Linked DNA regions of Homo sapiens. The protein of the gene in region 4 interacts with the protein of the main gene of each other region in a pairwise test. Each region holds a gene or a part of one and is shown on either strand. Other genes may lie near its edges. The genes, in order: TSNARE1, THSD7B, PEX16, SLC71A2, TMEM19, CYB5B and SACM1L.

What was found.
Region 1: the proteins of SLC71A2 (region 4) and TSNARE1 interact in a two-hybrid assay, tested with the Homo sapiens proteins (one large-scale study listed by BioGRID).
Region 2: the proteins of SLC71A2 (region 4) and THSD7B interact in binary tests that used the Homo sapiens proteins (3 or more experiments, as listed by UniProt).
Region 3: the proteins of SLC71A2 (region 4) and PEX16 interact in binary tests that used the Homo sapiens proteins (3 or more experiments, as listed by UniProt).
Region 5: the proteins of SLC71A2 (region 4) and TMEM19 interact in binary tests that used the Homo sapiens proteins (3 or more experiments, as listed by UniProt).
Region 6: the proteins of SLC71A2 (region 4) and CYB5B interact in binary tests that used the Homo sapiens proteins (3 or more experiments, as listed by UniProt).
Region 7: the proteins of SLC71A2 (region 4) and SACM1L interact in binary tests that used the Homo sapiens proteins (3 or more experiments, as listed by UniProt).

The regions. Positions count from the first base shown.
Region 1 is NC_000008.11:142,211,580-142,214,881, forward strand, and holds the end of TSNARE1 (t-SNARE domain-containing protein 1), read right to left. Parts: intron 735-3,302; 3' UTR 501-734; downstream 1-500.
Region 2 is NC_000002.12:136,768,545-136,772,044, reverse strand, and holds part of THSD7B (thrombospondin type-1 domain-containing protein 7B precursor), read right to left. Parts: intron 1-3,500.
Region 3 is NC_000011.10:45,912,021-45,914,877, forward strand, and holds part of PEX16 (peroxisomal biogenesis factor 16), read right to left. Parts: intron 2,665-2,857; coding exon 2,584-2,664; intron 2,449-2,583; coding exon 2,296-2,448; intron 2,184-2,295; coding exon 2,111-2,183; intron 1,919-2,110; coding exon 1,799-1,918; intron 1-1,798. UniProt on the Homo sapiens protein: Required for peroxisome membrane biogenesis. May play a role in early stages of peroxisome assembly. Can recruit other peroxisomal proteins, such as PEX3 and PMP34, to de novo peroxisomes derived from the endoplasmic reticulum (ER).
Region 4 is NC_000009.12:94,444,069-94,447,568, reverse strand, and holds part of SLC71A2 (hippocampus abundant transcript-like protein 1), read right to left. Parts: intron 2,606-3,500; coding exon 2,387-2,605; intron 747-2,386; coding exon 633-746; intron 1-632.
Region 5 is NC_000012.12:71,696,082-71,699,581, reverse strand, and holds part of TMEM19 (transmembrane protein 19), read right to left. Parts: intron 3,147-3,500; coding exon 3,009-3,146; intron 2,303-3,008; coding exon 2,048-2,302; intron 683-2,047; coding exon 473-682; intron 1-472.
Region 6 is NC_000016.10:69,455,619-69,459,118, reverse strand, and holds part of CYB5B (cytochrome b5 type B), read right to left. Parts: intron 27-3,500; coding exon 1-26. UniProt on the Homo sapiens protein: Cytochrome b5 is a membrane-bound hemoprotein functioning as an electron carrier for several membrane-bound oxygenases.
Region 7 is NC_000003.12:45,737,896-45,741,395, forward strand, and holds part of SACM1L (phosphatidylinositol-3-phosphatase SAC1), read left to right. Parts: intron 1-682; coding exon 683-776; intron 777-885; coding exon 886-978; intron 979-1,691; coding exon 1,692-1,749; intron 1,750-3,500.

The DNA.
Region 1 (3,302 bases), on a different chromosome or scaffold from region 4:
GCCCCCAACGTGGAGCTGGGTGGCAAGCAGCAGAGAGGCCACAGCCTGGGAGCAGCCAGGGCCAAAGCCAGCCCTTTGCTTTCGGAGTGGGAAGCTGAGGTCTCAGGAGGGGCAAGGGCTTGTCCTAGGCCCTCAGGGAGGAAGACAAACGACCTCCGCCCATCAAGGGCTCAGTGTGGCATTCCAGGCCACTCAGGCAGCCTCCTCCTCGGGGAAGCCCCTCTTGGTGGGGGCTGGGACAGCCCCAGGCAAGGAGCAGTGCCCTGGCTCCACGCAGCACCAAGCCAGCTTCCCACCCCTCCACCACAGCAAAGCCCCCAGCATGCCCCTCCCCAGCTGTGAGCACAGGTTCATGTTCATACACAAGCTCACACACAGCCACACTCACTCCCCAGCAAGCCCCAGCCTGCCGCCTGCAGTCCTGTTGGCCTCCATTCCCATCCACATCCCACCCAGGCTTCATCTCAGGGGTCCCTGACAGGTGAAGACAGGCACGTGGCTGGATAAGCCACAGCGGTTTATTCGGGTGCTCAGCTGGGGCCGACACAGGGGCGAGTGGGGTCAGTGCAGGGGAGGACAGCAGGCAGCTGTGAAGCTCTCGGGTCCATTGCAGGCCAAGTGACGGCATCAGCTGACAACGCAGCGGACTCCATCAGCTCCCAGCTCCGGGCCAGGAGGGGTGCTCGGGGCTGGAGAGCCCACACCACAGCCAGCTGACGGTTCAGCGGCCGATGCTGCAGATGAGAAAGTGGAGGCTCAGTCAGGGCCCTGACCAGGTGACAGGGAGAGCTCAGAGTGCCAGAGGGTGGGGTGGGAAGCACCTGGGCCTGGTCTGGGGGCTGACAGTGTCCATGGAGGTAGGGCCCTGAGAGGGGAGTGGCCACCTGCAGCTGCAGGGGCCAGACCAGACTCTCCTGGCCCTGGTCAGGCTCCACGCAGGCCTCGGTCACCCATCCCCACGCTCAGCACCATCCCCTGCCCTGCACTCCATCCCTGCCCAGTCCATCCTTCCTGGCCGCATCCATGTGCCCAGGCTGCGGACTCCTGCAGCTAGAGCCTTCCCGAGTCCACCGGAGCTCCCCAGGCCCAGTACAGCAGGCCCTGCCTGGCGCACCCACCGGCCCTCCCTCTCCTGGGCACGCTTCCACCTGACTTCCAAGCCCACGAGACGACCCTACCTCTTCCCTGGCCCCTCCCTCTCCCCTCCTCCTCCTTCTCTCCAATCCTTCCCCCCCCTGTCCCTCCCTCTCCTGTCCCCTCTCCTTCTCTTCCCTCCCTCCCCGCCTTTCTCCAATCCTTCCTCCCCTTCCCTCTCTCCTGCCCGGTCCCTCTCTTCCCTCCCTCCCCCTCCCTCTCTCCCATCCTTTCTCCTCCCTCTCTCCTCTCCCTCCCCCTCTGCTCCTTCTCTCCAATCCTTCCTCCTCCCCCTCCCTCCTCCTCCCTCTCTCTAATCCTTCCTCCTCCCCCTCCCTTCCCCCTCCACCTTCCTGTCTCCCCTCCCTCACTCTCCCTCTCTTTTCCCTCCCTCCCCCTCCCCACCTTCTCTCCAATCCTTCCTTTTCCCCCTCCCTTCCTCTCCCCTCCCTCTCTCCCCTCCCTCCCCTCTTCCTCTCCCCCTTCCCTACCCCCTCCGCCTCCCTCTCTCCCCTCCGACTCTGCCCTCCCTCCCCTCCTCTCTAATCCTTCCCTGCCAGGGAAATCCTGTGCGGACTCCGGGGCTGGGGAGAATGCCCCTCCTCCAGCCCCTCTCCTGGGGAGCAGGCCACTTGCTCCTGAGGCCCCATCACGTGCCCCTCTAGCCTTGGGCAGATGGCAAGGGGGCAGTTGCTGCTTCTCTGTACTTTTCCATGATGACTTTTTTGCAGCAAGCATGTATCATTTTTGCACAACCAATAAATCTACTTTCAAAACAAAAAACTGAAAACCCCTATAAAAGTCCAATAAGGACAAACGCCAGTTGCCTGGCCGTGGGCAGAGGCAGCTGGAGACAGGGCTGTGGGCGGCAAACTCCCTGCGGCCAGGAGCAAAAGGCCAGGGCCTTCTGGAGGAGCAGAGGAAGGAGGCAGCTGGGGAGGGGGCCCCTCAGGACTTGGTGGCACACTCACTGCTGGCTCCCCGAAATCCAATTACCACAGGAAGCAGGGAGGCGAGGGGAGGGTGAGGCTGTGGGCCTGGGCCAGTGAGGGGCCTCTTGGGTGCTGAGCCAGGTGCCCAGCAGGTGGCCCACGTGATGTGCAGGCGGCTCCTGCAGGGCGGAGCTGAGCCAAGGCACCTGGTGCTGTGGGGCTCCCCATCAGAGCCCAGCCCCCCAGGAAGCCCTGGCCTTTCCAGGATTCTCCCCAAAAGGCACCCGGTGCTGTGGGGCTCCCCATCAGAGCCAGCCCCCCCGGGAAGCCCTGGCCTTTCCAGGATTGTCCCCAAAATGCCAGTCCCTGGAGACACCTGTCCTGCCCCCAAGGCTTTCCATAGCTGGTATGAGGGGGTCCTCAGGGCTGGCAAGAGGCATGGCCAGGGTCTGAGGGCCTCAGGGCTCAGGGACTGGCCGACTCTGACATAGCCAAGGTCCAGGGAGCAGGCGATGACGCTGGGTGCGGCCCGCCTGGCCCTGGGAACCCAGAAAGGAGGATGGGCGGCCACTGCAGGGCTGCAGCTGGAGTCAGGGCAGACCCCGCTCCCCACCCACAGCTCCAGCCTGGCCCCATCCACACCACAGGGCCTCCCTGGACCCTTCATTCCGCCATGGGGCTCGGCCTTGGCACATCCAGAATCCCCTTGGGGCTGCCCCACCCCTGCCACCTCCTCTCCCCGCCACCCCGGATTTGGGATGGTGCCCGTCTGTGCCCCACTGCACCCAGTCCCTGGATCCCTCGGGATAGTTCTCCAGTCATCCCCAAAACTTGGCCCCTCACTTCCTGCCCAGAACTCTGGGCTCTGCCAGGCCCAAGGTCTACCTTGCGCTGGGCCTGGGCTGTTCCCTCTGCTGGAATGATTTTCCCTGCACCCCACTCTCGGTGAGGCCTGTTTAAAATCACAACCAGCCTCATTCCAGCCCCTGCTACGGTCTGAGTGCTTGTGTTCCTCCAAAACTCAAAGGCGAAAATAACCCCCAGGGTGATGCTGTGAAGGGTGGGGCCTCTGGGAAGTGCCGTGGTCCTGAGGGTGCAGCCTCCTGGTGGGATCCAGGCCCCAAGAGCTCCCGCCCTCCCTCCGCCACGTGAGGATGTAGGAGAGGTCACCCTCAGCAGCCCAGAAGGGCCCTATCAGAACCCAGCCCTGGCGGCACCCTGATCTGGGACTTCCAG
Region 2 (3,500 bases), on a different chromosome or scaffold from region 4:
AAAAAAGGGACTAAATAACAGTACCTACTTTGCAACATTATTATGAGGATTAGACAAACAAATTCTAATGTACCTAGCTAGGTATGCAGCAATTCATAGGTAATTAACTAATAGTAATAATTACTAGTCACACTTGTTGCCTACCTGGATATTGGTAAGCCTTACCTTACAGATCCTCAAATGGCTGTTATTACCCAGGCCCCTACTCTCCATCACACTCCCCTCTTCAACATTTTCCAGAATTCTCAGTAGAGAGTGGTGCCCTTCACCATTTAAATCCTTTACTATCAGAACTCCACACATAGATGCTAATAAGAAAATAGATTCAATCAAACATGAAAATTAGAATTTACCACCTGAGTTGTTCAGACTGAGAGAGGGCTTTGTGAATTGGCATCATCAGTGAAAGCTCAGTGGAAGTATAATTGGAACTGGATTTTGACTAATAGATATAATTTGGATAACTGGGACCACAGGAGTAGGGAAAGCAACATTTTTGGCCACTTTAAATAAGTGTGAGTCTTGTGGGTGACTTTAAAGAGATAGGTCTAAAAGAAGAAGAAAGTGGATAATAGGAAATTAACGACAGGCAAGAGTTAAATTGATGTAGTATCTGGAATCCTATTTTTTCTGTTCAAGAAATAAGCATAATTTAAGTTACGTTTTTCAGGGACCATCTAGCAGTGCTGGAGTTTAGTTTTAGCTAGAAGAGATCCAGAAGAAAGCACCAAAAAATTTTACTCAAAGTCATTAACATCCCTTGCCTCTCTGTGATTGGCCAGAAGATATTCCAGTTCATAGAATGGGTCAAGTCAGATGAAATGAAAGCCCTACTAACAATATTTAATCACAAAAGTGAATGGAAGTCAATATGAAATAAATTGAGTTAATTCTGAAGACTAGAAACAGAGATTGAAAAAAAATAATTACTTTTTCCCCAAAAGAAAGAAGCCTTGTTGAACTACTCCCACATACATACATTTTAATTAAGTGGTCTGAGACAGCTGTGAGGTAGAAGAATTTACAGTTGTGGCAGATGACCTGGGTGAGAAATTTGGCTCTTCCTCTTAACAGGAAGGAAGGAACTTAATATCCTTATTTTATATTTTCTAAGAAAACAAATTAAATTGAAGTTAGAGTGGCTTTATATGAATTGATAACTCAGATGAAAGGGGTTTTGATACCTTTGGGCTCCTAGATAATATAAAGATAACAATATTTAAGTGTTTTAACAGCCAGAAATATTAGACACAGAGAAAATTAAAATGTAAACATTTGATGTTCAACTACTTGATAATGCCAATGATTGCATTCATTCTTGTCACGAGTACAAATATCAAGGGATAATATTTAAAATATTTACCAGTTGGTAGGTCTGGGGCATAAGCCAATCAGAACAGCCTTAGGTAATATCACTGGAGTGTGTCCCAAGGCCTCTTTGCCATACCAGGTGGGTGACACCCAGTGGCTCTCTCAAGAAGTGATCTAAGGGGAGTGGTCTGTAGGACCAGGATGATAGTGGGACCTTCAGAGGGCTCAGAGCAATACTCATTGACCTACTGGAGCACATGTATTTCAATATTTTTACAAGTATTTCAATATTTTACAAATAGTTCAATATTTTTACCAGTAAGGCTGTATTCATGTGCCCTGTCTAACTTGCCCTGAATAAGTCTAACGTAAGCACAAAAGGCAAAAATCAATAGAGGAGAGCCCAGAAGCAAACTCTGCAAGAAGAGATTACTGCAAGCCTTAGTCTTATTATAATTAAAATCTTTCATGTATGCATACTACATGGTATGCTTTTTAAAATAACCATCTGAAAGAACTCAAAATTAAAATATGCATTGCTACAAAGCTGCAGTCTAAGACTAAGGCAATCGTGCCTAACTGCCACGAAGTTCAGAGCCTTACTCAACATTGTGATTTTTCCAGAAGTAATGAGCTGTTCGCTAACATAACACTAGGACACAAATCAGCAGCCAGCCCTCATGCAGGCAAGTGGAACACGGCCATGAGTTTCTTCCAAGTCAAGGCATTGAAAAATCGTTTGTGCATTAGTTACTTAGGATTCTGTTTTTAGCTATGGCATGTTTAATTACAAGAGGCTCATAATTAAAATATGCCCAGAAAGGCAAAATCAAAAGCGAGCATCATGTCCCTTGCTGCAAAACACCTAAGTTCAACAATGATAGCCTTTTTTATTCATGCAGGAAACATTTTCACACTTTCACAGATCTCCACATCTAGGTCAATGTCTAACCTTTTCTAGTAGGTGGACCTCTTCTTTTTAACGTCAAAAAATTCTACTGATTTCCACATCACAGCAAAGAGTTGTGTTTTTAGAATCCATAAATTGCAAAAATACCTAGTAACCAAAAATTAATATGAATTTAGCGATGCTTTTATACATACTGTGTTTTAGTCATCACAACAGTATATACACACTTAAAGTAGTTCTTATAGATGCCAGATGACTTCATTGTTCAGCTTACAAACCACGCTTAGATTCAACTCCTGTTACCAAAAGCATGAGTCCCTACCAGCAGTGAAACTATTCTACAGCATCTCTAGAGTTAGTTTCAAAGTTTTACCAAAAGATACGGAGTAATTGGGTTTCACTAATATCTGATTTTCCCTTTCAAATGAAATGCTTGATGTGGTAGCAACAAAATGATCATACTAAATCACCGGTGGACTATAACCTGGCAAAATAACTACGTCTCTATATTTTGTATAACTAGCCCATACCAGGATTCATGGCTTAGAATGAAAGCATAAATGTAGGAATTCAGTGGCTGGGATTCCTATTTCCTTTTGTCAAGAGATACTTACAAGATGACCAAAAACTACCTAATCCTCCTTGGCTTCATTTCAAAAATAGCCACTGTTAGCTCTCAAGAATAACCACCCATGAACATCCTACTAAAACGTCCACAAAATAATCTCGGTAGATGGAGAAGTTTTAAAGGGTGGGAATAGAATGCTTATCATCTTGGAGCACAGGTGCCTGTGATTTTAGATCTGTTAAACTACAGACCCCACTAAAATTCACAATAGTAAATTTCTAGACTAGAAGTGGAGTTAAAAATCCCTCTACTTTCACAGGTTTAACGTGCTAATTATCACTTAGATATTAATCTTGTTAACAGCTCTAAATTAAGGACCTGTGTTATATTTAGGAAGCTGCCTGGTGTTAAAGTTAATGAAGCAGCTTCTTTTATAGTTATATACTGGGAAACATTTTCTTTTGAAAATATGAAGCACTTATGTGCAATCCATATTCAAAAATCCAACAGCATATCTAAGTAACTCATGTAGTTTTTGATAATACAATACCCAATAGTTATTCAAAGACCCAGCCTTTATGCTTTGTCTGTAGAGCATCTCTGAAGCCTTAATAGTGCTATTCTTTTTTTCCCATCAACTAATATAGTTGTCACTACTTAGAATTCTTTAATCTGTTTGTCTTAATCATGTATTTAATATATTGTATCATT
Region 3 (2,857 bases), on a different chromosome or scaffold from region 4:
TCCCAAAAAACAAAAGAAAAGAAAAGAAGAAGGCTGGCTGGGTGCAGTGGCTCCACCTATAATCCCAGCACTTTAGGAGGCCAAGGCGGGCCTTTGTTTCCCTAAAGGACAGGGAGCAGGGTCCAGAGAGGTGCCAGGGTGTGGTCCAGAAGGAGCAGCCTTACTCTTTTTTCTGTTTTAAAAAAAAGATGGGTCAGGCCAGGCGCGGTGGCTCACGCCTGTAATCCCAGAACTTTGGGAGGCCGAGGCAGGCGGATCACGAGGTCAGGAGATCGAGACCATCCTGGTTAACACGGTGAAACCCCATCTCTACTAAAAAATCAAAAAAAATTAGCCAGGCATGGTAATGGGCGCCTATAGTCCCAGCTACTCAGGAGTTGAGACAGGAGAATGGCATGAACCCGGGAGGCAGAGCTTGCAGTGAGCCAAGATTGCACCACTACACTCCAGCCTAGGCAGGCAACAGAGCCAGACTCCATCTCAAAAACAAACAAACAAAAAAAGACAGTGTCTCGCTCTGTCACCCAGACTGGAGTGCAGTCGCGCGATCTCGACTCACTGCAACCTCTGCCTCCTGGGTTCAAGCGATTCTCCTGCCTCAGCCTCCTGAATAGCTGGGACTACAGGCGTGTGCCATCACACCTGGCTAATTTTTGTATTTTTAGTAAAGACAGGGTTTCACCATGTTAGCCAGGATGGTCTCTACCTCCCGACCTTGTGATCCGCCCGCCTCGGCCTCCCAAAGTGTTGGGATTACAGGTGTGAGGCATCGTGCCTGGCTAAACTATGCCAGTTTTGTTTTTTTTTTTCTGTTTTGTTTTTTTGAGACAGGGACTTACTCTGTCACCCAGGCTAGAGTGGGATGGAGTGATCATAACTCACTGCAGCCTCAGCCTCCTGGCCTGATCCTCATGCCTCAGCTTCCTGAGTAGCTAGGACTTACAGGCGCACACCACCATGTCTGGCTAATTATTATTATTTTTTTTTTTTTTTTGTAGAATTGGGTTGCCCAGGCTGGTCTCGAACTCCTGGCCTCAAGCCAACCTCCTGCCTTGGCCTCCTAAAGTGCTAGGATTATAGGTGTGAGCCACTGCTGCCCAGCCTATGCCAGTTTTTAAGCTATTATTAGGTCCTAGACAAAGGGGGTCCCGGGAGCCTTGTCTGCCTCACAGTCCCAGCCACTGCACAGGGTTTCCCCCTGTCAGACTGTGGTCTAACCTCAAGCAGTCATAGTGGCAGGCCTGTGGAAGAACTAGTCCCAAGCTGCCCCCTGCTCAACCCAGCAGGCCTCTCTCAGGCTGGGAGCTCTGGACCCTCGCAGGTGACTGAGTGGGGGCTGGGCCAGGCAGGGAAGGCCAGGGGAGATCCTGGGTTTGGGATCTAGCTCTACCACTGGCTAGCTGGGTGTCTTTAAGTTGCCCAACCTCCTTGAACCTCCAGGTCCTCCTCTGAGAAGTGAGGATAAGCCAAACTATTTGGCAGGAAGAAGTGGAAATGAGCTAGAGGCCATGGGCGCCCGCCCTGTCGCCATCCCTGTGGGCCACCTGGCAATGCCCTCAGCCCTGCCCTCAGTGCCTCTCCTGCCAACCAATGTTTAAGTTCCTGCTCAAGTGGCCTGATGGCCCAGAGAGCTCTGCGGGCGGGACTGGGCTGGCATCTGGTGACTGCCACCCGGACAACACACAGTGCTTGGTGAACCCTGGATGAGGCGTGGGGAAGGGAAGGCGCCAGCAGGGACCGGAGCACCAGTGCCCGCTTGCCAGCCCTCTCCCTGGCTCAGGGTGTCCTGGGTGCTTACTCGGAGAAGCGGTCATAGAAAGGAGAGCGCAGCAGGTAGTAGAGCAGCAGGATGGTCCGGCGCCGCAGCTCCCGCCGCTCCCTCCGGGTCAGGCCCTTTCTGTCACTCAGGAGGCTCAGGCTGGGAGGCAGGGAGGACATGGTCAGGGCCAGGGGCATGATCTAGGCCCACGGAAGGGGAGGAGCCATGGGCTGGGTGTCCAGAGGGGCAGCAACAGGAGGAGCAGGGGCCGCTGCCACCCCGCCTATGTGAGGCCAGGATTATAGCAGAAAGCCCAGTGGAGAGTGAAGCCCCAGGCAGGCCCAGGCTCACCTGGTCACGTCCACAACACCAGCCAAGAGCCAGGGTTTCCACGACCTCTGACCCCACAGGCCCAGGCTGAGCACTGACGGCCAAGGCGTCAAGGATGTCTCCAGCACAGGGGCCTTGCTCAGCACACTCCCCACTCAATCCCCAGCCCACAGTGCCAGCCCTATCCTGCCCCGCGCTAAGGATACAGTGCAGCAGCGGCCGGGCAATGTACAAAAACTCTGCGATGGTCTCCTGCAGCCCCAGGGGGGTGGGGGTCGCACTCAGCTCCTCGTGATGCTGCTGCTGCCGTCCCTCCCGCTGCTGGGGAGCTCCCCAGTGCCTGGAGTGCAGGGACGGCGCTAGAACACAAGGGCGGCAGATGAGCGAGCCAGGCCCAGGCTGGGGCAGGGGAAGGTGGCTGCTGACCAAAGCCAGTCCCTCAAGCCCAGGCAGACAGCACCTAGGTGCCCAGGCCAGCCACATCCTCCACTTACTGTTCTGGAGGGTTCGCACCACCCGGTTTGACCGCTTCCCCACGTAGGACTGCTCATGGTTGCCAGGGCTGTGGTCACCATCTAGCAGGGATAGACAGAAGGCCATACAGTCAGAGGGACATGCTTCCAGCGGAGCCTGCAAAGAACGTGTGCAGTGAATGCTCAGGAGCTAAGGGGAGAACAGATGAGCTTGTACTATGGCAACAGCTGAGTCAAGGGAACTACAAGCAGGGTGGCGGCTCAGCACAAGACCCGTCCACAGAGGAAAGCACTC
Region 4 (3,500 bases):
GAAATCTCTATATCTTACTCTCAATTTTGCTGTGAACCTAAAACTGTTCTAGAAAAATAGTCTATTTAAAAAAAAAAAAAAAAAAAACAGGCTGGGCACAGTGGCTCACGCCTGTAATCCCAGCATTTTGGGAGACCGAGGCGGGTGGATCACTTGAGGTCAGGAGTTCGAGACCAACCTGGCCAACACGGTGAAACCCTGTCTCTACTAAAAATACAAAAATTGGCTGGGCATGGTAGTGCACGCCTGTAATCCCAGCTACTCGGGAGGCTGAGACAGGAGAATCGCTTGAACTCAGAAGGTAGAGGTTGCAGTGAGCCAAGATCGTGCCATTGCACTCCAGCCTGGTGGACAAGAGCAAAACTCCGTCTCAAAAAAAAAAAAAGATAAATTATGTTTCTGCTAATTCTGGTTAATTCTCAAGAAAAAAAAATTTCCACAGTAATTATCTTACTATAAATCATTGCATTAAAGGTGCCCTGTTTACTAATTATATGCCAGCACCTACATTTGTAACTAGAAGCAAGTTCACATGTTTTTTCCTCTGCAGTGGTTTCCTCAAAATATCTTTAGACAAATCTCCATCTTTGATTTTCCTGGTATTGAAAGGCTACTAGCCACTCACTACTCACCTGCCTGAGATAGAGAAAAAAACTTGAATACTGTCCAGCTTCAGGAAGGTATGAAAGAAACACGGTGATGCAGATTAGTAAGACAGTAGAATCTTTTCCAACTTTCTTCAACGACTGAGAATAAGCAGAAAGAACACACTTAAAATGCCAATACACATTAATGTTGCCAATGTTCTGGGACATCAGCTTCATTATTTTGATCTATTAAGATGAATAACAAAAGTCAAATGGTTAATAAAAGGAAGTTCTATCACCATCTTTCTGAGGAAGTTACAAGTCTTAATTTCAGAGGTATATATTTCAAATCATATAGCTAAAAAAAAAAGCAAAAAAATAAACCCACAAAACACACTTACTCATCTTTGTTAACACACTGATTAAAATCCCTGAACAGATCCCGAACTTCCTATAAACAGAACCTGGAAATATATTCCTACAGAACCTTTTAAGAAAATCACTTCTCTCAATTCATAATGTAACTTCTTTAAAGCCATATTCAGTACAGAGCGTTTCCGTATAGGTAAATTCACTCTATTCTTCAAAGTGTTCATGTTCAACTTTTATATCTGGTAGACAAATAAGTACGCTCCAGCCATAAGGTCAAACTGGTAAGAACTTGTTGAATGTTACAACCTTGTTGAAAAATCCTTCTTACATACATTGGATTGTTGAATAGAACAAAATGGTAAGTTAATACCAAAGGAGTGGAAAGTGCTACAGAGCTTCTAGCTCATCAGACCATAGCTTTTATGTAATTAATAAGCAAAAGCAGCTAATGTTGTTGAGACTTTGCTGGGCAACAGACACTAGGCTAGTTAATTTACACACATTAACAGTAATCCCCACGATTGCCCGGAAAAGTAAGCCACAGTAGCTCTACTTCACAGAGGAGCTTTGATGCATAACTTGATCACTACAAAGGAAGGTGGGAAGCCTAACTGGCTGGCTCCCAACCCCACTACTGGCTTCCTTCTCTAAATATTTCTTTTGGTGTCTGACATTGTGACAATAATAGAACAGGCAGGATCCCTAGGTCATGCCCTCAGGGGGTATTTTAGAAAAAGTAATTTCTGATTGATTACATGAATTTTTCTGAAAGGTAAACTTGGGGGACGAAAAGCAGAAACCAAACTGCTGGTTCTTTTTTTGTCTACAAACTTTTTTTTTCCCCAAGAACAATTTCAAACCAGGTAGGGTAGAGAGAAGGTGAGAGATAAGATATGTTTTCCAGTGACACACCACCTTCCCATGCCAAAAAAGAAGGGGGTGGAAAAGGAGAGGAAAGGGAGGGAGGTAGAGAGGGAGAGAGAGACATATTATAGAAAACAATACTCAATCTGTAACAAACAAATTAAACGTCTCTGGTCAAAATTAAAATAACTCATTCAAACCAAAGGCATTTATCCTTTTTGAGTTAAAATGAGTGAAAATGACCACTTCAAATGACCACTTTCACTTATTTTGTTTAAAAAGGATGAAAACAACCATGCAAAAAGAAACTCTCTTCCCAAACTCTCACCAAGAATTAACTAGACATTTTCTCTCTCTTCGTTTATGACATGCTTAAGTACCAATTCTATATATTTCTTAATACAAAGACTAACTCAATCCCTTACTTGCAATTAATTTTTTCTATTTTTACTAAAGAAATAAGTCAACAACTGCTAGGATCCTTGAGGCTGCACATACATACTTTCATTTGCTTGGCTTAGAAAGACATTTAGGAAAGTAAATATTTCCATATTTTTATTTACCGCAAAAGGGTCTGCTTGTTTCCAAGAAATCTGAGCTCCCCAGGAAACCGGTCTCATTTTCTCAGGCAGAGATTCTGGAACAGCCACTAAGATGAAGCAGATGTCCAGAAGAGCCACCACTGTGGCCACCAGCACAACGAGGCTGTCTCCGTAACTGGCAGAAAGATATGCTCCAATGGCCGGGCTGCTGACAAGACTAGCCGCAAAGGTGGCTGAGACCTGTGGGAAAGCACACTCTCACCCAGGGTCCCATAGGTGAACACCTCTGGGGAAAGCATATCCTTACCCAGGTCTGCCTGCTGCAGGTGCACACCTTCAGGAAAGCACACTCAACCAGGGTCCCACAGGTGCATACCTGCAGCCATGCTTCCCTGGCTTTAAGTAAGACAAAAGAAATGTGTTGCATATAAATTTTAAGAATGAAAGAGAATTAAAGTGATTTAAGAATGTGTTCATAAACTATTAACTGGAGATACCCTGCAGAGCTACAAGAGTAAAAAAGGATTATCTTATTACAAACAAAAATTGTAAAAACCTTCCCCACAAATAAAACATTAGCTCTTTGGTCTTCTTTAACTGGGGACCGGGGATGTGAGATGGTATGAAAAGAATTCCTGCAGGGCTGATGATAAAACTTACAAACTACTCAAGTACTGTGCTTGATTTAATCTTCTAAAAACACTGCACTGTTTGAACATTTTATCATTTGGTGGTCATTTCATTAGCACTGCCTGGGGTCAGGGGGAACCCTCTGCTATTCTTAGAAAAAAACTATTAACAACAACAAAGAATTTGTTGAGGTGGAAGTTGAAGCTTTTTGACTAGACAGCTGTAGATTTCTGTCTCTCTGTCACCACCTGACCCTATCCAGTATAGAGACCACAGAGCCAGCTAAGCACACCCACAACCTGAAGCCACCTTGAGCCCCTTCACAGTGCACTCCTATAAGCATGTGGAATGTCCACTTTATTTTAGAACACAATCTGGATGGTCAGATGCTTATCGGGCAAACTCCAAATTATAACCACACTAAATGTCAAATGCATATCTATAAGTTAGCTTTTTAAACTTCTAATGGATTTTATTAAAAATCCCAAAATTTCTGGCAATAAAA
Region 5 (3,500 bases), on a different chromosome or scaffold from region 4:
ACCGTGCCCAGACATCGACCATATATCTTAATGAAGCAAAAAACTCAGGGGCAAGAATAGCAAGCATGATACCACAGTAAGAAAGTAGGTCGTGTGTATAGTCAGATTTGTACAATTACTCCTCAAATGGAATAGGAAAATGAATGGAAGGAATTGTATTAAAATGATCTGATCCCAAACGTCTTGCTTTTCTGGGATTAGGTAATGGCTCACACAAAAACGTCTGTTCTCTGCACTATTGTATCTTCCCCACATGGCTTCTAATCATTGCTGCGCGGGACTAATTCTCTTTCAATTAATTTAATACAAAAGAATAAGAAAACCAAAATTGTGAAAGAGACTTTGCCCTATCATTTCTAGTCCCTCAACACCCTGTGTCTTTGGATTTGTTTTCATTGTTAACATTTTTTTCTTTCTTTTCCCTATTTCTTTAACATACCAATAAGTTGCAAGAATGAAGGAATGTTCTTACCAGTATACTGCATTGTAGCCCCTAAGTATGAGTCCACAATTGATCCTAGTAATCCAGCTAAACCACCAAATGCAATAATTGGCCACTGCGGGGCAGAAATGTCTAAATCATTCACAAAAATCAGCTGTGTGAGGAAGTATGCAATGCCCACAAAGGTACCACCAAGGAGACTGGAGACAAGGCCCACCACTGTAACTCCTCCATTGGTACCTGAAGAAGAAACATGCAGAAAATCATCCGGTTAATAATCAGCAAACACATAAAGGCAAGGACAGCAAGGTACCTATCTAATCAAGACTAATTTAAAGAAAGCATTCTCTTTAATGCAATCTAAAGACTGTAGCTTTTTAGAAAACAGTATTTTCTCCTCGGTAACTCTTGACATTTTAAGCAATGAAGCAGAATGGTTCAATGAAGCCAGACTGCCTGGTTTCAATCTTGGTTCTGCTTCTCTCTCTCTCTCTCTCTCTCTCTCTCTCTCTCTCTCTCTCTCTCTCTCTCTTTTCAGAGACAAGGTTTTGCTCTATCAACCAGGCTAGAGTACAATGGTGTGATCATAGCCTACTGCAGCCTCCAACTCCAGGCTCAAGTGATCCTCCCATCTCAGCCTCTCTAGTAGTTGGGATGACAGGCATGAGCCACCTTGCCAGGCCCAATTCTGCTACTCTTAAGCCATGTGACTGTAGTTAATTTATCTAACTTCTTTGTGCTTTAGTTTCTTTATAAGATATAAATAATAAAAGAACCAATTTATATGATTATTAGGAGTACTAAGTGGCAATCCGTGTAAAGCAGTTAGAATAGTGCTCTGTAGTAGGTATCTAAAATATGCTAGCTGTTACAATGATGATGAAGAAGAGGAGAAAAAAAAGGAGGAGAAGGTGATGATGGGGGATAGGATGGGTAGAAAGAAAAGAAGGGGACGAAGAGGAAGAGAAGCATCAGAGGACAAAAAGAAGCAGTATAGGTTGAGTATTCTCTTTACTTGAATTGCTTGAGACCAGAAGTGTTTTGGATTTCAAATTTTTTCAGAGTTTGGAATATTTGCATTATATAGACTTAACAGTTGAACATCCCGAATCTGAAAATCGTAAATCTGAAATGTTCCAATGAACATTTCCTGTGAGCATCATGTCAGTGTTCAAAAAGTTTGAGATTTTGGAGCATTTTGGATTTTGGATTTTCAGATTTGAGATGCTCAACCTATGTAGTTGTTGATAATGTTGATAATGGAGAATTGAGATATATCTTAAAGCACTGATATCCTAACAGGCCCTCAATAAATATTCTATTGTTCCCTCTCTTTTCCTTCCCTACTGATATGTTTGCAAATCAATCTCTATGTTCCTGTATTGCTTATCTAGGTCTTGCTAACATTTCCTGCAAATATTATTTATTATTACCAATTTAATAGTCGACAGAAATTTTCCAATTATTATTTAAAGAGACTAAATAAAGTTCTTAAAAGGCTCTAAAATACATTACATCAAGAGGTTTTTTGGTTTTTTTAAAGAATCTCAAATCAAGACTCACCAACTGTGTCTACCAATGGGTCAAAAAGAAGAAAAAACTCACCAACTGGAACTTTCTCCCAGGTTGTTATCAGTCTTGGAGAACTTTTACTCAGAACTGGGCCAACTTCTGAAGCCCATGTGTCTCCAGCAGAGCAGGCCAGTGCAGCCAAGAGAGACAAACACATCCAGGAAGCGGAGTACTGCTTGGAAAAATCGACTGGGATTTCCCCGGGGCCATTTTCTATCATGTACAGCAGGGCCAGTTCTGTGGGTACAGCTCCATTACAGAACACCTGAACCCAATTCCTTTGCCCACCTGGAAACAAACAGATGAAAAGGACAAACAAATGATTCCTCCTTAGAAGAAAAACCATGCAGTTATAGGTGTTTATGTTTTAAAGTTTAAGAAAAGAAAAACAACAAAAAAATTTAAAAACAGTAAAAGTGTTATGGTACATTTGCCCAGATTTTATACTGTTATTAACAAATCTGGAAAAATCATGATAGACTCTAGTGCTTCTAAAATTCTGCTGTCATTTCCCATTGTTGTGAAATAAATTATAAACTCAATTTGGCTACTAAAGGAATTCTCATATAAAATTGATGTGTTTTGACAGTTTAAACAACATTCTGATTAAAAGCTTATGTTGGCTGGGCGCAGTGGCTCACGCTTGTAATCCCAGCACTTTGGGAGGCCGAGGCAGGCGGATCACGAGGTCAGGAGATTGCGACCATCCTGGCTAATACGGTGAAACCCCGTCTCTACTAAAAATACAAAAAAATTAGCCAGGCATGGTTGCAGGCGCCTGTAGTCCCAGCTACTCAGGAAGCTGAGCCAGGAGAATGGTGTGAACCCGGGAGGCGGAGCTTACAGCGAGCCGAGATTGCGCCAGTGCACTCCAGCCTGGGCAACAGAGCAAGACTCCGTCTCAAAAAAAAAAACAAAAACAAAAACAAAAAAAAACCTTATGTTAGGATTAAATGAAGTTTACTATTTTGAATGATATCAAACATAATTTTACCTTCCTTATATTCTGAATCTAGACGCTTCTTCACTTCTCCCTTCCATTTAGTGAGTTTCGAAGAAGACAAGAAAAACATCAGCAAAGAGGTAAAAAAGCTGAAATTTGCAATGGTTAGGATAAATCCAACGACTAGCCCTGAAAGAAACATATATAAACACAGAATTATATTCAATTCATACATCAATGCTGTGAAAAAAGAATGGATTTTTTCCATTATTTTTATATTATAACCTGAAATGTACATTTCTAGCAATTTGCATTTTACCAATTAAATTCTTAGCAAGCAGTAAACTGAATGCCATTTTGAGTACACATTTTTTACCATATTTTAATCTCCTTTCAAGCAATGCCATATGAATGTAAGATAATATTTTAGATAATATTTTTAAAATTATCTTAATTTAAAAAAATTAGAAATAGAGATGGGGTCTCACTATATTGCCCAGGCTGGTCTCAAACTCCTGGGCTCAAGCAATCTGCCCAGCATTG
Region 6 (3,500 bases), on a different chromosome or scaffold from region 4:
TTGCATGTATCATTTTTTGAAGGGTCCTGAAATAAAAAAAAAAAAAAATTCAAAAATAACAAACAAAAAGAAAGAAGATTAACATAGCACATGTACATTTTCTTGATCAAGCTATGTCAACCCTGTAACTGATACCAGAACTTCATCTTTCATGCATTTTGGTGTTTACAAATATATAAGCAATGGATAGACTGGGAATTTTATTTCTGATAACATACTGGCACTTCACTAGGTTCCTTCCTAGTGAAGAATCACTAATGAAAGCATAGAAATGACCTAAACTTTTTTAGATGTTAAAAAATGTTAATGATACAAACTATATTGAAATGGACTACTCTGTGGTCATGATGATGTACCTGGTTCAGCTGGGCTTGCCACTGGCAATAGCTAACATCACACTTTCTAAAAACATTTTTTAAAGTCCAAAAAGCTCTTCTAACATGTAGATCAACTGTGAAATGCTCTAGATCATACAGATGATTGCTTGTAGATCACAAAAATATACTGGTTCACTCCTTGAAATCATAATAATTATGACAGGAGACCTTAGAATTGATTTCACAATGAAAAGAGAAAAAATGGAGTCAAGGGAAAGAAAATGATAAAATAATCTTAAAAAACAAATCTTGGCAATAAAAAGTACTGAAGTATTGATATATGCTACAAACTTCACAGCATTATCCTAAGTGAAAGAAAGCAGACACAAAAGACTACATATTATATAAATCTGTTTACATAAAATGTTCACAACAGGACAATCAATAGAGTTAGAAGTAGATTAGTAGTGGTTGCCTAGGGCTGGTGTGAGGAGGACGAGTTGTGGGGAAATGGAAAACGACTGCTAATGAATATGGGGTTTCTTCTTGGAGTGAGGAAATTGTTCTAAAATAGACTGCACAGTTCTGTAAATACACTAAAAACCATTGATTTGTACATTTTAAATAGGTAAACTGTATGGTATGTGAATTGTATCACGATAAAGCTGTTATTACAATTTTTTTACTCAATTCAAGTATCAAACGAGTTATTGATTCCATTAACCAGCTGTATAGTACAAAAGGCCTGCTAACTTACTGCCAGAGGACAATAACCCTTTAGCATAGGTTGCTGCTGCCCAAAATACCATCTTTGCAAAATGTAGAAGTATATCAGGGTATGAACATGGAATATTAGCTCTGCTTAACCACCGTTTTCAATAATCTCCAAGAATTTCCAGAAACCAATCACATTGGCCCCAATATACTTTAGAGCAGTCCATGAAATGAGTTTTAATTTCATATATCCAAAACACTGTCATGCAAATGAATACATGCCCCAAACCTGAAAGAAATTAGTCTGTAGGCAAGAAAAATGGCAAACGAAAGGTTTTAAAGAAACCATATTAACATACTTCTATACTTCTTTAAGACTTTAATGATTATCATTATCTGGGACATTTCAACTAGTCTAGTAAGGATCCGATTAATTAAAATGAGTTACAAGTCAATCTTTGAAAAATACAACAAATGTTACTATCTACAGATTCGGAAGGTAGGAGTGGTAGCGATGGTAGTATGTGCATCAAGTTAATTTATAATGCTGCCTTTTAAAATAAATATTCCACTACAGTAACCGAGAAATAATTGAATTCCATCAAGAAAATGTTCATGGTCTTTTATGCTTTAGCTACATAAATACCAATGATTTATAGACAAAAAATGTAGTTACTATTTTTAAAAGGGATAATTTGAAAGGCTTATATGAGAGCATCACAGCATAATATATGTATTATGATGTTTAATCTATAATTAGAGTAAAAATCATATACTTCATATAAATGGATTCTCTAAATTTCAAAGCTTTTAGCCTCTTTTACAATCAAAAGCCCTGGATCTCTGCTAAGTAGGGTGAGCCTTAGAAAAAGGTAATAAGCAACTGAAGAAGAAAGAGAACAAAGACAGCCAAAACCGTACTATGCTGAAATGTAAAAATTTCTAAACAATAAATAACTTAAAACATATGGTGTTCTTTGAACTAAGTACTGCAAAATGTGCCTGTTTTAAGATCAATCCATCCCTGGGGACGCAAAAAAAAGACCAACCTGTCTAACCCATTAAAGGAAAGAGAAGAGAAAGAGGCATACACTCCCTTTAGGATACTGATAGCCAAGTAGATGCAAACCATAGTGACCCCACTTTTAATCAAATACATAATAATCAAAGAGATGTTGAAGGCACAGCTCTTAGCAGCCAGGACTCTCAGCCAAATTTGGAAATAAACCAAATCGCTTGTTTTTAAACTGAAATGAAAAAAGTTCTATTAACACATAACCTCCCTTCACCTCCACCCTTCCCCTAGGCACAGTTCCCCCCAGTCTTCATTTCCACAGCTAAGCACTAGACTAAAGCTAATGGATGCTTAAGTGAAAAGCTTACAGTTTATAGTTGACTTTAATTTATCCCTTCAGGTATTGAGGCATATCTAGCTGGTTATGTCCATGCCCAGATTTTAATGCTCTCAATCTTTGGCCTGGAAAGTAATAATTGCAATACTATGATTTTAGTTACAAGTGGTGAATCAAATCCAAAGTTCTTCCAGCATAACCCCTACCAAGCAATTAATATGCATGCTTCTTTTTCTTCGAAAAGCTTAGAATACACTGGCAAACAACAAAATTGCTGTGAGTTTTGGTATTATAGGTTCTAAAACAAATTGCTGTTAAGTCTACTCTGACTTTAGCTCAAAACTCATGGAAATTAACTGTTTAAATAAAACTGGTTCCTCAAGTTCAAGGTTCATTAAGGCTTTAATTCCCCACTAAAATAAATAAGTAGGGCTGGGCACCTTGGTTCACATCTGGTGAATCCCAACACTGGGAAGGCTGAGGCAGGAGGATCACCTGAGCCCAGGAGTTCAAGGCTATAGTGAGCTAGGATTGTGCCACTGTACTCCAGCCTGGAGGACAGATCAAGACCCTGTCTCAAAAATAAATAAATATATTTATATACATATAAACACAAAAGACGGACTTTTTAGGGAAAAAGGAAATATTTTGTAATACCTGAATAGAATATTTATAAAGCTGCTCAAAATTAAAATTATATCTAATATCTTCAAGCCCAATGTTATAAATCAGTTTCCTCGTTTGTAAAACGAAAAGCTCAGATCAATGTGAATTCTAAAGTCATATTCAATTATCTCAACACAATTTTCTGAGCCAAGGACATTGTGGTGAAACCTAGAGCAGCAGGCTTCTAAAGGGTAGAGAGAAGAAAACACCATTCTCTTATGTCTAGGAAGACTGAAGAAGCACTACCGTAAGTAGATTTTTCTCTCTTCCACCAGCTACATAGAGGAGTAATTTCCCAGATCCTTGTCGCACCATAAGCACTGACCCAATTTGATAAGATTAAGAGAATGACAAAAAGGCCAGTCGCGGTGGCTCATGCCTGTAATCCCAGGCATGAATTACATGAGAGGCCAAGGTGGGCGGATCACGAGGTCAGGAGATCAAGATCATC
Region 7 (3,500 bases), on a different chromosome or scaffold from region 4:
TGCTTTTAAAAATCACCTGGGCAGCTTTCAGACAGCAGCAGCAACAACAGCAAGACTCCAGCATCTGGGCCTCACTTGAGACCTGTGGAGTCAGGATTTCTGGGAAGTGAGGCCCGGGTACTGGTGTGTTCTTAGCCACCCTGGGAGATTCTGATGCTTGGGGAGGGTTGAGAGCCACCGCTCCACAGTGCTCCTCAGACCTTACCGTGTACCTGAAGCACCAGTCTTGAGATGTGCTCTAAAAAGCACCCAGGTGATGCTGATGCTGCTTTCAAAGACTGCACTGAGTAATGAGGACATTAATGAGAACATTTTGAATGTATTATGCATGCAGTGGCTCTTTTTCTGCTATGTGGGTTCCCTGGGAGCAGAATAAGATTTCTAGTCTGTTTGCTTTGCTGTGTCCTACCACTTAACCTGGGCTATGTATTTCTCTTCATATTTCTTGTCTTTGCAACTGGAATTAGTGTGTTTCTTTGTGCCTCCTTTGGTAATATTTTAGAAAGAAAATAGGTATTTCTTGGACCTACAAGTGATTTCTTTTGTGAAGTATCTGTATTTTCAGGGATAGTTTTTAAAATCTGTCACTCACTTATTTCTATACCTTATGCTTATTGGCCATAAAACAGTGTGAGAATTCAGTGTACAAACCTGTAACTTAAAATTTAACCTCTTTAACCAGAACTGGAAAGAGAACTCATTTGGGACTTATAATGGATGGCTGGAACTCAATGATACGATATTATAAGAACAACTTTTCCGATGGATTTAGACAAGTAAGTTTGTATTTGATGCTTTCCTGGCATTACGTGGTTGTATCTTTGCATTGTTCATCACTAATGTTATCTCACACTGAGTTTACGAATTTCTTCCTTTCTGTTCTAGGATTCCATAGACTTATTTCTTGGAAACTATTCAGTGGATGAATTAGAATCTCATAGTCCTTTAAGTGTTCCAAGGGACTGGAAATTCCTGGCTGTAAGAAACCATTTTGTATTTTTCAAGTTTTTAAAAGCATTGTGTCTGAAGGTATAGATGGTTTCAGTCTCAATTTAAAACGTTATATGTGGTTTTATATTTCATTACATGAAATATAAATACTTAAGTTTTCCAAAGAGGTCAGGCTGAGGAGTACAGTAACTGTGGAGCATTTGTTTTCTTTTCCTCAGACTCTCACACATCCTTTTCATGTGAAGTAACATAAGCAAAGGGAATGTGGAAGCTTTCTCATTTCAGGAAAACTTCAATTCTCTTACATTGAGGGAATTGCCAGAGACAAACGTGTTACATGGAAGGCAAAGTTTATTTTTGATGCTTCTCTCCTTTTTGACTCCTCTGTTCACCAGACCCTGCAAGAGCCGCTCTGGATTTTCTTTCCAGTGTGTCAAGTGCTCTGGAATGGAAGGGAGGCCTAGTGTTCTAGGTCCTCATCTGGGCATCCTCCTTCCATTTAGCACCCTTTGGCTTGGAGCAAAAGCATGCTTCTTCCGATCTTACCACATCCCCCATCTAAAGTCTAGGGCAGTTGTGATTGAACCCATAAATAATAATGTTTTGTTGACAAAAGATATTAGCTGTGTATTAGCTGACAGATGAGTTTTATTCTTTTCCCAAGCAATGCATGCACAACTGATTTTGCTGCCATTGATTAGCATTCTTAAATGATGATCTCTTTCTATTGTCTTTTCCAGTTGCCTATTATCATGGTTGTTGCCTTTTCAATGTGCATTATCTGTTTGCTTATGGCTGGTAAGTCTGCTCCACACATTTGTTTCTTAGTTAGAATGTTGACCTTTCTTTTACAACATCTTAAGTTTTTGAGTTCACCGAACACTTGATGTTTCCCTATTAAATTTAATGGGTAAAGTGGATGTGACATTAGATTGTCATTAGATGTGACAGGAAGAAAAATAACATACCTAGTAGTTTGATGGTTGTCGTTTTTTTTAACCTCAGATTTTAAAAACATGTTTTTCTTATTACTGTAAACCAATGAGTGTCTGAGACAGGTCTCAGTCAGTTTAGAGGCTTAATTTGCCAAGGTTGAGGACCTGCCCAGGAAAAAGAGACACAAGATACAGTAGGATCAGTATCTTGTGCTTTTTCCAAAGAGGGTTTTAAGGACTTCAGTATTAAATGGGGAAAGAGTGTACAGGAGAGGAAGGAGGAATGGAAACAAAAGGGGAGGGTAGGTAGTAAGATAAGTGGTCACATTCTTGTGAGGCTTTGATTAGCACTCACTGAATCCATGTTACATGTGAAAGGACGGGGTAGAGGAACAGTCAATTATGCATTCATCTCCTGCTCAGTAAATCTGCATTTTATGTAAGACAAAGTAAACATAGAGTAGATAAAGAAGTCAGATCTGCATTTGTTTTGGGGTGGGCGGAGGGATGATTTTCTAGTCTTGTCTTTGTCCCATACCTGTGAAAATAAACTGTTAATTTACATTGTCAGGGTGAGGGAGATTCAACAGGACTGTCTTTTAGGGTAAAGATTTTGGGGCCCACAAGGAATTTGCTTGTGACAGTTTGTGAGGGTGGCCATCTGTGAGGATATGTGGCCCACTATCTTTGCAGCTGTCTACTTAGGAACAAAAGGAGGGTAGTTTTGTGAGACTCAGTTCCCAAGTTTAACTTTTTCCTTTGGCATAGTAAATTTGGAGTCCTGAGATTTTATTTTCCTTTCACATTACCAAAGTAATACATAGTAATTATAGAAAGCACACGTAGGCAGAAAAGGAGAAAATATTATTTATCATCATACCTTTGAGAGAGAAGCTAACCACTCTTAACATTTTGATGTTTTAATCTTTATAAGTGTCTGTGATTTTTTTTCAAAAGTGAGATACGTATTTTCATTATCTGCTTTTTTTCACTGAGCAGTATGTTTTCCCATGTTCTTAATTGCTAATGGCTGCAAAGTATTCCATTTATGGATGTATAGTTTAACCAACTCAAATAAATGTTAATGGATTAAGATATTACTTATCATTACATTTTAAAGGTTGAGAGTAAAATTGCCTGAGAACCTGAGGAGACAAGGTCTTTACTGGTTTTCTTTTTTCTCTTAATATTTTGCTATGTTACTGAGTTAATAAAGCATTTAAGATTAAAGTGAGAAGAATGTATTCTTTATTCTCCTTTGAGTAATGTCCTGTAATTTGGAGGTTTGAGTCTGAGACTTGGTGTATTGGACGTTGGAGATGCAATCCTAGTCACTCTGAAAGAAGAGGCACCTTCCAGCCTTCATCCTCTATCCTGAATTCGTTGAGCCAACCTCTCTCTGCCTGTCTGAATTCCACCATCCTCAGGGCACCATTCATATGCTCCCCTCTCACAGAGTGTCTCTCCCACACAGAAGTCTTCACCTTCTGTCTGGATTTCCACAGCACTCCTGGTCCTCTCTCCCAGCACTTTCCTCTTTTAACCTCATTAATACATAGGGAGTTATTTTTCAGAGGTGGTATACCTCTTTGGTGTACCTGACATACCCAGTGT